Linked DNA regions of Homo sapiens: region 1 is linked to region 2. Evidence: fine-mapped expression QTL. A gene starts in region 2. The other region holds a variant in brackets. All regions are shown on one strand. Distances are from middle to middle.

What was found. PIP is the estimated chance that this variant, and not a neighbour inherited with it, causes the effect.
Region 1: its variant is fine-mapped to the expression of FMNL2 in whole blood (INTERVAL, PIP 0.98).

The regions. Positions count from the first base shown.
Region 1 is chr2:152,610,776-152,616,153 of GRCh38, forward strand. FMNL2 (formin like 2) reads left to right here. Exons shown (of 26, transcript NM_052905.4): 11 at 720-830; 12 at 4,076-4,225. Among named protein-coding and RNA genes, the nearest start is that of PRPF40A, 100 kb to the right of the region's middle. RefSeq lists an enhancer at 1,527-1,606. The variant T/C (reference allele first, on the strand shown) is at 2,268.
Region 2 is chr2:152,332,356-152,337,733 of GRCh38, forward strand. FMNL2 (formin like 2) reads left to right here and starts at 2,819. Exons shown (of 26, transcript NM_052905.4): 1 at 2,819-3,365. The coding sequence starts at 3,249. RefSeq lists silencers at 2,619-3,268, 3,779-3,878.

The DNA of each region.
Region 1 (5,378 bases), 280 kb after region 2:
TATTTTCATTTCTCTTAACTGTATATCTAGAAGCGGAATCGCTGGGTCATATGATAATGCTGTGTTTATCATTTTGAGTAAAAGTCACACTTTTTAAAGTGGCCACCCTTTTTTACATTACCACCAGCAATGGATGAGGGTTTTAATTTCTCCATATCCTTCCCAACTTTTGTTACTGTATTTCTTTTTTATTATAGCCATCTGAGTGGGTGCGAAGTGGTGTCTTATTGTGGTACCTCTGTGACTTTTGAATTTAAAAATAAGTATAAAATATTTTTAAAGAGGCCGGGCGCAGTGGGTCATGCCTGTAATCCCAGCACTTTGGGAGGCCCAGGCCGGCGGATCACGAGGTCAGGTGTTTGAGACCAGCCTGGCCAGCATGGTGAAACCCCATCTCTACTAAAAATACAAAAATTAGCTGGGCGTGGTGGCACCTGCCTGTAATCCCAGCTACTCGGGAGGCCGAGGCAGGAGAATCGCCTGAACCCAGGAGGCGGAGGTTGCAGTGAGCCGAGATCATGCCACTGCACTCCAGTCTGGGCGACAGAGCAAGACTCCATTTCCAAAAAAAACCATATATATATTTTTAAAGAACCAATGAAATGAAGGAAAAGGAAATCGGTAAGTGAGCCTTTTTTATGAAATTGAAAGCACATGTCTGCAGTTAAACTGAGAAAAAAGTTTGGAGCCCATCTAACCCCTTGACAATTTCATTTCAGGTGGCTTCTATGCAGTTTATTAATATTGTAGTCCATTCAGTAGAAGATATGAATTTCAGAGTTCACCTGCAGTATGAATTTACCAAATTAGGCCTGGACGAATACTTGGACGTGAGTATAGCTGTGACCTTTGGCTCCAATATAAGAATTGACTTATTATTGCCTGCCCTCAAAGGTACGCTTCCATAGCAGCTAAAGAATGCCTAAAGCTCTATGCAGTCAACTACTGTAGTGCTAGTTAAAGGGAACTGAGCTGAGTGATGTACTCTGCCAGAGATGCTGGATTCTTGCAGGGCTCCTGGGATCTCAGGTCATCTTCTGCTAGCAGCCTTTTAGTACGGGAGTCAGATAACCTCTTGCAGCCTTGCTGCAGCTTTCCTCTCCTTTTGAGCTTCATCTGGGTCAAGTCTCATTGCATCCTTCATCTGGGCTATTGGGCAATTTGTGTTCTTGGTTACTCCGGGGACCCCATCTGGGCAGAGAAAGTCAAGCCAAGACTGTAGAGTGATGAGTCAGTGCTTAGAGCATAAAAAAAAAATAATGAGGAAATGGACACCAGAGACTTCCTCCTGAAGCTGCTAAATTCTGCTTCAAGTGTTTGTGGCTTTAGAAGTTCCACTTTTAGTTCTTAGGAGAAGGAGGTTTAAAGTTTCCCTTTTTCTCACTCCCTTGCAGAAGAGTTTAGCCAGTTCCCTGAAGTTCTTCAGTTAAGAAACAGAAACTTGTGAAAATCAGAAATGGTCTTGAAAAGGCTGATGGCTCACACCTGTAATTCCAGCACTTTGGGAGGCTGAGGTGGAGGATCACTTGAGCCTAGGAGTTCAAGACCAGGCTAGGCAACATAGTGAGACCCCATCTATACAAAACACCAAAAAATTAGCCAGGTGTGGTGGTATGTGCCCGTGGCCCCAGCTGCTTGGGAAGCTGAAGTGGGGGGATCATTGGAGTCCAGGATTTCTAGGCTGCAACAAGCTGTGATTGCACCACTGCACTCCAGCTTGGGTGGCAGAGCGAGACCCTGTGTCTAAAACGGAAAAGAAGTGGACCTGAGGATCCAGGCAGTTTTGTTTTCCCTTTTGTATAGGAATGGTCTAGTGATAGAGCAAGAATTGTTGACCTCAATTTCCTTCCTTTTTTTTGAGACAGGGTTTCACTTTGTCAACCAGGCTGGAGTGCAGTGGTGCAATCTTGGCTCACTGCAACCTCTGCTTCCTGGGTTCAAGCGATTCTCATGCCTCAGCCTCCTGAATAGCTGGGATTACAGGCACTATGCCTGGCTAATTTTTGTATTTTTAGTAGAGACTGGGTTTCACCATGTTGGCTAGGCTAGTCTCATACTCCTGCCTCAAGTAATGCACCCAGCCGGTGACCTGAATTTCAAGCCTGTTTCCAGCTGTGAAGAATATAGAAGTACTTCCTTTGGGCATCTCAGGAATTCAGTTGCCCATCTTTGTTAGAGATAAACCCAAGGGATTGCACAGACTGTACCCTCAGTTTATTAGGAGACGGAATCACAGAGGTGGTTACTCTCAACCTGAAGGCCTTGCT[T/C]CCTAGACTGGCTGGGCTGCCCTTGAATAGATGGGCCTACTGTTGTCTAAAGACTACTCAGGGAGAGGCGTAATAGATTTCCATTAAAATGTTGTTTGAATTGCTTTCCTTTTTATTTAAAGGCTCATTTATATCACTGGCAGAATATTGTACAGAAAGACTCTTTCTTACTTTGAGATCAAGGTTTGTCTATCCCTTTTTCTCCTATGCTCTAAAAGTATCAGTATTTGAACAAAAATTGGATGTATAAATTCCTAGCGGTGTTTTGGGTTTGGTTTTGTGGTGTCTGAGCAGAGCTTGTTTATGCTGTAGAATATAACGGCAGGTACCCACTTATCACTGAACACCTGTTATTCATTGTGAATCTCATGAAAAATCCCATTAAGCTGCTTCTCCTTTTGTTCTAGCCTTTGCCCTTATTTAGAAGCCATTCTCACTTGTGACTCATAAATGAAAACAGAACACTCTCTCTTCAGAATAAGCTGTATTGTAGAATTCCAGATTAAACCTAGGGGAAAATCCATTTTTCTGAAAATTTATGTAGAGTGGAATTTCTCTTAAAAATGTAAGATTTTTTGTCAAAACTCTGTATTTCTTTAACTTCATCATGTGTTGACTCTGGAACCTAATAGAGGTGGTTAGAAGAGTAATGTAAATGTATGCTATATAAATGCTTCACTAGTTTACAAAAACCCAGCCTTGTAAGTAGCCATTGATTTGTTCAATAAATGTTGATTGGCATCATCCATGCACCAGGTATTATTCTAATCACTCATCTGTTCCCCAGGGAAAGTCATGACTTATGTTACTTGTAGGGAAGATTCACTGATTTATTTGACCTCTAATTTCCAGAGCTAGCTGAGTCCCTGCAGGATGCCTAGTTTGGGAGGCAGTGAATTGGGGAAAGCTTTCTGATCTGCCTTGGGGAGCCCTGAGCTGTTCATGCTGTATACTGACTTAGGGAGGGATGTGTGGAGGTTGGGCTCTAGCAATTTGTGCTAAAATAATCCCCAAGGCTAAGTATAAACTCTGTCAGTGTCTGCCCCACCTCTCGCCTAACCTTCTTCCCCTACTGGAACCACTGTAACTAACCAGGTAAGATACCAAACACTCCAGTCTTTTCCACTACACAGATACCCCTCAGGTTTTATGTGGCCATGACTATAACCTGTTAAAGCTGCTTTTAATTTTTCTGTTGTCCCAATTTCATGTATATCAAAATGTTTTACATAGGAATATAACTACATGGGGCAGTAAGGATTTGGGGGAAAATGTGTGTGCATTTGGGAGAGCGTATTCACCCGAAAGTCATCTGATGATACTGCTTAGGCAGTCACTCCATAATTCTCTTAAGGAAGATGACATGTTAAGCTCTCTTGGAAAGGGCTGGACTATTTGTCGAAAAGAAAACACATAGACTGGCTGGGTGTGGTGGCTCACGCCTGTAATCCCAGCACTTTGGGAGGCTGAGCCGGGTGGATCACGAGGTCAGGAGATCGAGACCATCCTGGCCAACAGGGTGAAACCCCGTCTCTACTAAAAATACAAAAATTAGCTGGGTGTGGTGGCGCGTGCCTGTAATCCCAGCTACTTGGGAGGCTGAGACACGAGAATCGCTTGAACCCAGGAGGTGAAGGTTGCAGTGAGCTGAAATCATACCATTCCACTCCAGCCTGGGTGACAGAGTGAAACTCCATCTCAAAACAAAACAAAACAAAACAAAAAACAAAAAAGACAGACTCTTAGGAAATGATGTTCTATTTCCATAGATGAGCTAACACCACGTTCTCTCCTATTCTGGTTTTTAGAAGCTGAAACACACTGAGAGTGACAAGCTTCAAGTCCAGATCCAGGCTTACCTGGACAATGTTTTTGATGTAGGAGCTCTACTGGAAGATGCTGAAACTAAGAATGCTGCCTTGGAGAGGGTGGAAGAACTGGAAGAAAACATTTCTCATGTAACTATATCTCAGAAAAGGAAAAATTGCTTACATTTCAGCTGGTTGCAAAGCAGAATTAATGTCAGCTTTTATGGTGGTAAATTTAAGGATTTGGAGTATAGGAATAGGCCATACCCTGCAAGAGAGAGCTATCAGAAGCTGTTCTGTGTTTTTTCCAAAAAGCAGATGTGTTATGTAAAATGAAATAGAATCTGTTGCTTTGCTTTAGCTCACTTACCTGCTCAGTTTCTGCTGAGGTGCATTTCCTGGCAGTCTTGCTTACAGGCTCAAGCAGAGTGGGGGTGTTTGATGATTGGCATTACGTAAATGATTAGAGGGAAATTAAATATGAGAATTTGGCCTGAGGCGAAGAGGTATCTTCTTATCAACTATGTCCACACAAACCCATGGACAGGATTAGCTGGTGTCTCTGTGATGCATGTCTGAACATTCCTGTCTTACGGTACTCAAATTCTTAATAGAGTCATTTCAACAATAGGCATTTTCAAGGACATCGGTGTGCTTTCTCATATATCCTGTTCTTTGAAGAATGTCCTCAGTATCGTTGTCAGCTCTATCACAGGACAGGGTCTCATTTTTCTTTGAGGGATTTTTCTTGCCATAGACTGATTTGAATATGACTCTAAGGGCCTTTAGAGATTATTTGTTCATTCATTAACCACATATTTCAGTAGTAAAAGAATTAACAGAAAAATGGTGCTTCTCAAAAACCCAAGCATTATGAAGACCAAATTCTTTTGGTGAGTCTGGTGAGCACTTTCCTTGATTATGAAATGAAGTGTCTCCTTTTGGAGGATTATTATTTTCTCCTTTGAACAGTTCATTTATTTTTCTCCACATGTTTTTTAAAGAGTGCTGCATATGCTCAGTTTCCTTCACCTTTCCCCATCACTGTGAAAATGGGTCTCTTCATGGCTGTGGGTAAGCCAAGTTGGTGAGCCAAAAACCCTCCCTTTAAAAGTGCCGCTATGACCCAGCTGGCATCCGCTTAAAAAGAGAATTTTACAGGCCCAGTATATCTTCCCTTAGAAGATTTGTGTTATATGCTGAACCCAATCAGTGTAAATCTCCACTCTTCCTCCTTACCTTGCCTCCCTGGTTTTCTTTACTTGTAATGAATTTAAAGGAGATGTTAGAAATCAGAAGTTGC
Region 2 (5,378 bases):
CAGATGAATGGATTTGGTTTACAGGCATAGTTTTCTGAATTCTGTTCTAAGTTGACAGTCTAGAAGAAGGTATATAATTCTCATCTCATAGTATGCATCCAATTATTAATAATTAGCTTCTTTGTTGTCTTCAGAAAATTCTGTATGGGAAGAAATCTTGCAGGCTTTGTTATAAAGAATATCAAACTGGCACAGTGGCTCACACCTGTAAACCCAACACTTTGGGAGGCCAAGGCAGGAGGATAGCTGGCAGCCAGGAATTTGAGACCAGCCTGGGCAACAGTGAGATCCCATCTCTCTTTCCCATGATTCTTCCCTTAGGGTAGGCGTTCTGCATGCATGGTGCTCTTCTTACCCTGGGGAATTGAGCACACACAGTGTGTTTAGGAAGTTGTATGCATGCCCATACAACTGGCTTTCTTTTTCTTTTCTTTTTTTTTCCAGTGGAGTGTACCTGGAAGATCATACTTCGCCATTTTTGTCTCTTAATAATTTTGCATTTTTCTTAGAGATGGAGTTTCTCCATGTTGCCAGGCTGGTCTTAAACTCCTGGGCTCAAGCAATACTCCTGCCTTGGCCTCCCAAACTGCTGGGCTTACAGGTGTGAGCCACTATGCCCGGCCCAGACATTTTCTTTTTTGCCAATATTTTGCACATGAGCTGTAACAAATCATATATAATAATAATAATAAATGGAATATACATTTTTAAATGATTGCTTGATTTTAATTCTGTGGGGAGGAAGAGTGCTACAATTAAGGTAATAGAAATGTCTTTTCTTTCCTTTCCCTCCATGCCGTCTCCCCGCAAAGAATTTCCTAAGATTTTGATGGATTCTTATAGAAATTGTACAAGCCTATGGAGTGTTTATTTCTCCTCTTAATAATCACAAATAACAACCAAATATTAGAGATTCCAAACATTGAAATGGCAGGAAAGTTCTTTTGGTTCATAGATTTGCACACTTTTTCCTTGGCTTCCCTCGAAGTGTGAGCTTATGAGAGAGACTAGATGTGATAAGACGTAAGGGGAGAAAAAGGTCTTGGTTACTGGCAGAAATATAGCCGCAGGGAGACATAAATGTAATCAAAAAGGCTTTCTCAACTGCAGAAAAGAATTCCAGCCTTTTTTATCCAGATGGGCAACCCTCTGGGTGGGCTGATTTTGTGAGTCAATCAGATCCAAAGTATATGTCTAGAGATTACAAGGAAATAAATACATTTGTGGGTCAGAAATGTTTCACCTGGTCCGAACTGCTTTCTTTCTCTCTCATTTTCATTAGTTTGGAGTGTGTGTGTATCTAAACCGCCCTGCTTTTCTCTCAGATCAGTAACACATTTGCTATTAACTTTGATACAACACTGCTTTAGAAATACAGGTTACAGTTATTCAGAATTTTAAGTTGAATTTATTTATACTGTCTCCATTCTTTAAAGACTAGAAGTGGTTTAATAGAACATACATGATGTATTTGTGTGTATTTGTGTCATATGCTTTTGGAAAAAGTCACTTGTCAATTCCACAAATAGTTCTTGGGCGTCTACTATGTTTAAAGTATCTTGAAGTTTATAAAGATGAATGAAATGTCCTTGATTGAATCTTGGTGTACTACCTTGTCCAGAAACACTTGCTATTTACTAAAAGGATAACAACCTTACCTGCATATCAAAATCACCTGGGGAGCTTGTTGAAAATACACCGGCCCAGGCTTCGGCTCTCAGCTTAGGGAGATTCTGATAATACGCAGAGCCCAAGGTGTGTGTAGTTTTAACAAAAAGCTTCCCAAGCGAATCTGATACACATCTAGGATTAAGAAACACTGCTTTAAACTAAGAAAGGACTAACTGCAGAAGTTCAGCCACAAGTCAACCAGATGTATGCCCTTAACATTCACATGAGCAGTTGGCTAAAGTCTCTTATAAGGCTATTTCTATTTCCGAGGTTTCAGAACGGGTAGTTATAGTCTGAAATACACCCCAGAGGACAGAGTCAGGTCCAATCTTTTCTGTAAGACACCTTGCTCAAGACTGCTGTGAAGGAATAAGAGAGCTGCAGCCAAAGATCATCCCAAAGTCTCCCAGAACACTCTATCATTATATCCATCTCACATGAAATATGGGTGTGTACATTTTTTCCTTCACTAGATTGGCAAGTATTCCAGCGCAGGGCAAATCTCTTTTTTCTCCCACCAAGGAACACAATATCCCATACATAATAGGTGTTTGACAGGTTTTTTTTTTAAATTGAATTGAATCCTTACCTAGCTCCTAGGGTCTGACTATATATACCCATAAATTATACATCTGTTTATAAAACATTTCAATCACACCAAAGAACATATATATGGAAGAAAGAACGATAAACAAGCACCCATGGACCCACCCCCCCGTTTATGAAACAGAACTTTGCCAGTGCTTTCGAAGTTCCTTACTGAACTAGATCTTTTAAAAACAGCAACGATTTTCTGAATTTTAATCAGAAGGCATGCATTCCTTCATTCATTGATTCGATTCCGTCATGGTCAGACCCGCCTACCAAGTGTCAACATGATATACACGATGTAAGTATTCCACTGTTGGGGTGAGGAGGGTCAAAAGTGACAATATGCTATCTCCAGAGACTACGGATCGCCTTTGCTGCAAATGGTCCCAACCCGGCCTGGCGCTCTAGAGCAGGCGTGGTTTCTGCGCGCGGACACTTTGGAGAGAAACTACGCGTCCCGGCAGTCCGCGGGGCGAGTGGGCGGAGCCGGGCCGGGGGCGGGGGCCGGGCGCCGGGCGAGAGGTGGCATTGTGTAGGGGAGCGCGGAGCTGCATTTGTCTGCTCCAGGTGCTAGCCAGGCAGGCGCAGCCGTGGCCGGCTAGGGCTGGAAGTGTCAGCGGCGGCCGCGGGCCCGGCAGAAGGCCGAGTAGGAGGGACCACGCGCCGGGGGCCGCGATCTCTGGCAGGGGGCGGTGTGCCAGCGGAGCACCATGCACATAGGCGCCCAGCGCCCCAACTACCCCTCCCGAGGAAAAGAGGCCGGGGCCGCGCTGGGGCGGCGGAGAGCATGAGGGAGGCCGGGGGGCGGCTCGGCTTGGAGCGCTGCTAGGGAGCGGTGCGCGCCGCACACCCGCCTGGGCGCGGCGGAGGGCGGGGAGCCGGGCAGGTCGCGCCTGCGGGCGGCAGCCGACCGCCGGGAGCTGTTCTGATTTCCGACGCGCACGCTAGGGGCCCGGAGCAGCCCCCGGCCCCGGCGCGCCGCCGACATGGGCAACGCAGGGAGCATGGATTCGCAGCAGACCGATTTCAGGGCGCACAACGTGCCTTTGAAGCTGCCGATGCCAGAGCCAGGTGAACTGGAGGAGCGATTTGCCATCGTGCTGGTAAGTGCGCGGCGGCGGTCGGGCGCGGGGACCCGGGGCCCCGGGCCGGGCGGCGCAGCTGACCCCCGCCCCTCCCCTTCACCCCGTGCCGGGAGCGAGCCTCCATTCCCGAGGGGGAGGCTCCCGCTTTCCCCTTTGTGGCCCCCCAGCACTCCTCTTCACCCCCCTGGCAGTCCCCCGCGCTCAGTCTCTCGGGGTCCCGGGATGGGGATGGGGGCTCAGGGCCGGCTGCCCAACCAGCCTCGAACCCATTGTCTGGCTGGAGAGGCACCTCACGGCGCGTGTGCCCGGGAGGTGCGGCGTGGGCGTGAAGAGAAGGTGGCGCGGGCTGGGAGGAGGAGGTGGCGAGCCGCTTAGGCTTTTTTTTTAAAAAAAACAAAACAAAACAAAACAAAACAAAACACCCTGAGCCCCTGCGGACCATCCCTCGGGCGGCCAGCCCGGGACCTGCGAAGTCCCCGGCAGATGGGGCGCATGTGGCCGGCCGCGGGCGCCGCGCCGGGCGGTGAGCGGAGGCGAACTTGGAGGGCTCACGTCGCGGCTTGGCCAAGGGGAGCTTCCCCGAAAGGGAAAGCGGAGACCCACAGCAGTGCGGCGCCCCGGCCCTTGGCGAGGAGCAGGGGCATCTGAAACCCAGGCCGGGGAGAACCTCAGCGCGTTCCCTCTAGACTTAAATCTTAAACCACAAAAATGTGGAGTTTTGCGGGGACGTGTTGCGAGCTGTCCTGACTGCACGGGCGACCCCTCCCCTCCTCTTGCACGCCCAGCCAGGTCCCCCGCTCCCTCCTGCATTCCGCTTCTCCCAGCTTTCCAGCTCCTCAAATCCAGGACTCTGAAAACTCCCCTCTTTCTCCCTTTCCTGCTGGGACAGTGTCTGGGCCCCTCCCAGCCGAGGCTTGTGCTGTGAGCTGCAGAGGGTGTGGCGGCTTGCCCCAGCCAGGATCTGGACTGCTGTTGGTCCCCCAGACTACCAGTTTTAGTGTCCCAGCCTCTTCTAAGGGATGTTGGGAGGGACACACACAGGCGAGATTGGGCTCATTCCTACTCCTGACACTTGGACACTTCTCTTTTCCTAGTTGGTTACCTCTAAACTCCACAAGACTAGGCAGCAAGGGAAACTCGTGATCCGGGCAGCCAACGATTGTGCCTGCCTGCGGGTTTTCTTTTCTTCTTTTGTTTTCATGAAAACTTAGAACTTTGGCAGAGGACTCGAGTTCTAGATCAAAAATCGGTTTTCTGAGGTGTGCTCAGCTACAGGACGTTCAAATTGCCTGCCTTCAGGCCTTGAAAAAGGAATGGTTTGGTATGGGAAGTGATGTTCTGGATGGCAGGTTAGCTGTGTGCTCTTTGGGAGAACTGAGCTCTCTCTCCCGCCACCTGGAAACTCTGGTGTGGCCGTCGGGGAGACAGATGAGGTTGCTTGTGTTGCTTTGCATCTCCTGTGATCTCCCACAGCTGCTCCCACCGTTGTGCAAGATGGGACACTGAAATGAAACGGCCTAGGCATAACTCTCAAGGCGGCCTGGGTGCATACTTGACCTGCTTTTCCAGAGACAAACGTTTTTCTTCAAAACCCTCTTCCTACTAGACATATGGTTCTTACCTCCTGGCTCTGGCTTTTTTTCCTCCTGGCTCTGGCTTTTTTGTTTTTCCATCCATGCTGTGGTGCTCTGTGTGTGTGTGTGTGTGTGTGTGTGTGTGTGTCTGAATACTTGTGGTGGAGGAGCCAGTGACACAGGGAAACCAGTGCAGCAGCCATAATAATAACAATAATGCAATTAAGTTCTGCTTGACTAGGATAGCATTTTTTTTTGCTTGAGCTTTCATTTACCCTGCTGATTAATAACACATGGTGTGAATTAATCTTTAGAAAAATAATGTCCCATCATTAACATGGTGGATTTGTGTTCTTGTTAAGGCTAGCAGTTGCAAATATAGTATTTAGACAATTATGATTGTACATCCCAAGCTTCTTGGGGCAGGGTTGTTGTGGCTACTTTTACACTACTGTGT